Regions from separate parts of the Homo sapiens genome. Here region 1 is linked to region 2. A link means that fine-mapping ties the variant in region 2 to the plasma level of a protein whose gene starts in the linked region. Region 2 holds a variant in brackets. A gene starts in the other region. All regions are shown on their reverse strands.

The links. PIP is the chance, under the fine-mapping model, that this variant and not a neighbour inherited with it causes the effect. Protein levels are from antibody-based Olink assays in UK Biobank. Linkage for the fine-mapping came from a reference panel and not from the study's own genotypes, which makes the PIPs less certain.
Region 1: it holds the start of SERPINI2, and the variant in region 2 is fine-mapped to the plasma level of the SERPINI2 protein (UK Biobank, PIP above 0.99).

Annotation. Positions count from the first base shown.
Region 1 is chr3:167,472,605-167,475,535 of GRCh38, reverse strand. SERPINI2 (serpin family I member 2) reads left to right here and starts at 1,494. Exons shown (of 9, transcript NM_006217.6): 1 at 1,494-1,533. It overlaps LOC105374197 (a long non-coding RNA gene), which reads right to left. Exons shown (of 3, transcript XR_924683.3): 3 at 1,076-1,164.
Region 2 is chr2:67,037,670-67,040,600 of GRCh38, reverse strand. No RefSeq gene overlaps it. Among named protein-coding and RNA genes, the nearest start is that of LINC01828, 47 kb to the left of the region's middle. The variant A/G (reference allele first, on the strand shown) is at 1,250.

The DNA.
Region 1 (2,931 bases), not on the chromosome of region 2:
GAACTGCTCTAATATAAGGTCCTTACAGAACAATTTCATTAAATGGTCTTAGTAGGACAGAGTGACGGTCTCTGCCATTGGTAGGAAAAGTAATGGACTATTTCTGGATAAATCACATTGTGATCTGAGCAGTGTACAGACATAATGATGTGGTAGCCAAGGGTACTGGTGATATATGTTTGCTGGTGTCAGTAAATGGGTAGAAAAGCATTGATTGAATGATAGTCTTGACATTCAGACTTAATATTTATGTATTGCAGTGTGAAGCAAGTAGAATGATAGTATTCTTGTATTGCACAACTCTTTTTGGAAAATTATCTCTGTGTTAAGTTAAAGCTACACTAGAGTGTGCTTATGATAGAGTAGGTAATATTAGAATAAAACTCAAGATCTAGAAAACATTTGGAGATGCCTATATGGGAAATCAAAAAATTTTAGTTAATTAGTAGATTATGGCCTATAATGATCTATTCTCAGGCCTATTTTTAAGTTATAGCCATGTTAGGACATGGAAAGATGTTAACAGGGTCCTCTGACAAGTTTTTAAAAATGAATTCCATTTAAAGCTATCTATATTCACTTTATTTCTTTTACATGAGTTTATCAGAAATAGTATTAAATTTGGGGATCAACAGATATTTAATTAAAAGTGAACTAAATTTTTTTTCTCTTCTCAAAGGCTATAGATAAATAATACAATGTGCTTAATATCTGATTGCCATTGAGGTGATTGATTTGAACTACAAAAATGAGATGAAACCCATTAAATTATGCAATTTTTTATTAATGACCTTTTTGCAAAGAAAATCATGTAGAGTTTCAAAAGCACATAAAGGTAACAGCAATTTTTATCATCCAATTACCTATGGCTAATAGTATTGTCCTGATATATTTTGGCAAATCCATTATCTTTTTTGCTGGCCTTTCTGCTCAGAATAAAGAACATATTTCTTCAATATCCACTCTTTTTCTTAAGGATTCAAATGGACCTTATATCCACAGGAAACTCCTCTGACTATTGTATAATTTGATGAATGTTGAGAACTCTGTCAATGCAGCAGTGATTTGTCTCTGTATTCTGGACTTGATTTAGCTTTATTCTTTTTCTCATAGGCATTCTGAAATATTTATGACAAAGTGCATTGGTAATCTGATGTAGGAGTCCTGTGAGAAACAAAAAGAACTAATTACTAGCAAATTTACAACCAGTAGCGCATCCTTTCAAATTCTGTGCAACTTTTAAAAGAAGCAAAATAATGGATAAAATAATAATATAAATTTAATACTTTTAAAAAATTCTATAATTGTTTTTTTCTCAATTCTTGCACATTTCATCAGTTGATCATTAACCCGATTGTGTTAGTTCTTAATACAAATGTAGTGAACACCTGCTTTTGTTCTAGAGGAATTAATCAAGCAATGGTCAAGATAAATGGAGTTGGCCTTGATCGCTCAGGTGTTTATGTACAAGAGTTTTCCAGCAAGCGTATTTTAGTTGTAACATTCCAGTGAATAATCAGAAGTCAGTTTGGGGTAAGTACCTTAGAAATAAATAGCTTTTGAATAAGTATGTATGCAATAACATTGCCTATGAATGTTTAGTAGAGTATGGAATGGCATTTCAATTTACTTTGGTGTAAAAATCATTTGAATTTATTTAATTAACATATCGCTTTTATTCTCCTTAAATGATTTCACCACAAATCAGAAGATCCAGTTCTTATAGGACTATTCATCAGGTTGTTTAGTTCAGCATTACTTTGTGCTTTCTGATAAGATATGATCCAAAACCTGATGAGGTAAGTGAGTTTTTAAAACCAATATTTGTCTGAGGTTATAATTTATTAAGTGCTTAGAAATTTTCTAGAAAAAATGGATGTGGATGCTCAAATAATATAAATTTAATTATTAAGATTATTAATAATAATGAGAAGGAAACTCTAATACTGAGATTCTACCACAAAGAAAAAAATTACATTTTTAATAATACTGTTCATTATTCCAATATAAACCAAATACATAAAGCTATATCTAATGTATTTCCAGTTGATAACTTAAAGGTACTAATAACATTTTGACTACGTATCTACAAACACATATTTTGGTCAGAAGTCTTCTGAGAAATTGAATATATTAGAAGATAATGATACACAGACATTTATTTTGCATGTAAAACTTCTCTTACTCACTGGTTTTTAACTATTGTTGCACTCTCATTTATAAGCTCATATGCTAAATTAATCCCTAATGAAACATTTGCTTGATATTAATAGCATATAGGTCTATATCTAAAGTTTACCAACACATTTTCTAACAATTGCTTTGGATTGTTTTTTGAGGCTTTTGTCTTTTGCAAATATATATCTAAACAAATACAGTTTAACAAAATACATTGAAGGATAAATAATGACTCCATAGTTTAATTTGGAACAATATTTGACTATTAGTAATCTTTATATATAAATATAGTTGTTCTTAGGGACTCCTACCATTTATGGTACCCTTAATGATCTGCAAAACACTCTAGAAATGTAAGTCTCTACTTAAGGCTGACAACAGACTATTCTAAAGGCTTTCATCTTTACCCCTAATTAAGGGTTACTTCCTAGTAACTTACTGATGGATAAGTTTTTAAGGATTACTAACATGTATTATTTATAAGGTAAAATTATTGTTACTAAAATTTATGAGGCCTTGGAGTCAACATTCTACCAAATATGTGGTAATATTGCAAAACTAATTCTGCTTGAGATATAATCAAATGGTTGAATTTCCTGCAATTTTAGTGGAGAGCACTTTAATAGGGTATTATTAGTCTTGTGAATTGTTTATGGTTTTTAATTGCTGCTACTCTTACATTTGTTAGTATTTCTGTCAATTCTTTGATATTATATTTCATTTTATTTATATTTTTTCTTTTATAATTTCAAG
Region 2 (2,931 bases):
ATAGGTAAAGCGTGTGTGTGTGTGTGTGTGTGTGTGTGTGTGTGTGTGTGTGTGTATCTTTCTTGGAGATAGACCAGCAGGGGAAGGCAGTGGCATATGATGAGAGTTTAGAGAAGATAGTCTAACCTAGAGAACAAAACATTTGCTGCCAAGGAGATGAGAACCTGAACATTTGCTTTGTGATTACAGCAATGACTCACTGTGTGACCTTTGATAAATTACAACTTCTTTGTTATACAGAGTTCTGTATTAATACAGGTGAGATAACAGTATCTACCTTATTTCCACAGAACATGAAAACAAGGTCACTTGAGCATTGCTTAAAATCCCAGGATTGAAGGAGGGGCAGGGGATTGTATTTTTGTTATATTATGTCCATGAGAAGGAAGAATCCAGAAAGCTCTGTTAAGCTTGGAAATCTTTTCTAATTTCTTTGGAAAATGCTCACTAAATAATGATTCCAACTCAGTGCTGGATGCACTGATTACAACCTACACTTTCTTTTCAAGCCTTAATTCACATACCTGGATAGATCCCTCGTTAGCTGAGTGCATTGCCCTCTAACTGAATCAGCAGAAATTAGCAAATTCAGACATCAGCTGTTTCTTTTCTGTGTTTAACAGGAAGCGTAATGCAACCTAGTTTTCCCAGGATTTATTTTTTTCACAAGTGCCAGAGCAGCACAACACCACAGGGATCTGAGCTGTGAGCATGTGCTGATAAAAGCTGGTTTCCTTTTGTGGTTGCCTTTTCATTGAATTGGCAAATAAATGGGCTTCTAATTATCTTTGGAGGTAGAAGTCTATTACATTTCACTAGGCCTGTGTATTTTGCTAATAAAATGAATACAACCCAAGAAACAAGAACAGTGGAGGGTGACAGGGTTAGCACTTTTACTGATACTCTCAGAGGCCTTGGAAGCATCCTCCTACAAGTAATCACATGGCCAGGGCCAAAGGAAAAGCACAGTGCCAGTGGATGAAAACAGGGGAGAGTCCTCACAGAGGGCACAAGTTGAGAAGATTACTCCAGGTGGCAAAGGAGGGTAGGAAAGGAGGTGAATTTCATGACCCCAGATTGTATACAGGGAACCCCAGACCACCGCCTAATGCAGGAGAACCTTATGATCAGTGGAATAAAAATGATGAAATAATTATGTCTTCTTGATCATTTGCAAAAGATTTCCTTAAATGATAGCTCATTTTGTATTTATTGCAATGATAAGGAAAGTGAAGTTCATAGAGGTGCA[A/G]TGATTTACTCTAATGTGTATATAAGGCAATATTCAAAATCAGGTCTACTGGAAGCAAGGCCAGGAATTCTTCCACCATGTCCGACAGTATTTGCCGTGTGGTGTAAATTAATGCCTGCCAAAATGTGACCTTCCTCCTCATACGTACAGCTGTTGAAATTCCCACAATAGTGGGAATTTCCACTTTGAGGGTTAGAGAAGGAAGGAAACAAAATTATATATTGTATAAACCACATTAGGTAGTGACAGAGAAAGAAAATAAGGACAAATTCTTTCTGGATATTTCATCCCAGTTGTCAAACTTGGAAAGCCAAATTGGGAAGCACAATTGATTGGTATTCATTCATTCATTCATTCAACAAGTGTAAATTAAGCTTCTATATGCCAGACACTGTGCAAGGCCTTGTATATTCAGGGGTGTGTGAAAGAGCCATGCCATGGTTGAGCAACACGGTGAGGAAAAAGAAGAAAGTGAAAGCATGAGTATCTCATCACTGATTGTGGAAAGTGCTGTGGAAGACAATGACAGGACTTGAAATTATCCCAACACATAGAAACGATAAACACTCGAGGTAATGGATATCGTAAATATCCTGACTTGATCATCACACATTCTATGCGTGTAACAAAATATCACATGTACCCCATGAATTGTACAAATATTATGTATCAATGAAAAACAAATTTAGAAAGGATAAAAAACAGGGATGGCTTCTCCAATTTAGAGCAGACCATTCTAAGGCAGTGATCTGAAAAATGAGAAGGAACGCTGCAGGGGAATACTGGGCAGAAAGCATATGAGGCCCTGATGGTGAGACAGCACCATTCCTTCCAGGAGCTGAAAGAAGGCCCCTGAGGTTGAAATGAGGTGGAGGGGAATGAGAGGGCGGTAAAGGGTGCAGAAACAGGCAGGAGCCTGAAGGACTGGCCTGGACTGTTCTGTGTGCCCAACAGCAACTGGCGGGCCTGGCCTCTGGATGGAAAGAAGACCTACCAGAAGGGCAGGAGACACCAAAAAGACTGAGGTGAACTTCAGCTTGCCCAGTTTTCAGGTCTGCAATTCCAGGTGCATGTGGTGGGTCTGCCACTTCCATAGGTAAGTTATTCCCCCATGTTAAATTCTGTGTCTGCCACTAACCCTACCCACAGTGCCTAATACTGCCACCATACTCACCTTAGTAAATGGACTTCAGTTCCACATGGGAACAGGGGAGAAGGAAACCTAAGCTGCCAACTAGGTTCACAGAAAATATTTTCCCAAGCTCCAATAGAGACTATGCAGTAAACTGAAAGGTTTCTGGCCAAGTCCTAGCCACCTCTGAAAGCCGTTATCGTGTGCAAATCCCACTTTCTCCCATTGTCCTGTTTGCTGTTTGTGGCCGAGTAAGCACCCAATCTGGGCAGCAGATCGTTAGGAGTAACTGATTAACAGCCGCTGCTGTAGAACTTGAGAGTTTTGTTTTCCACAACCTGAAAGGGTGCTTGCTTTATGATTTTTTAATTACAGTGTAAATATTGCCGCCCCATAAACCTCTTGATTTATAGCGACAGGTGTGAAAGTTTGCACTTGCTGTAAAAGGCCCCAAGTCTTCTGTTCTCTCCAGCCCCTGTTTCCCACCCCTTTCTCAGGCTATCCTGGCAGCTGGCTATTTGGAGGCACTTACTTTACCTGCTGTCGTACA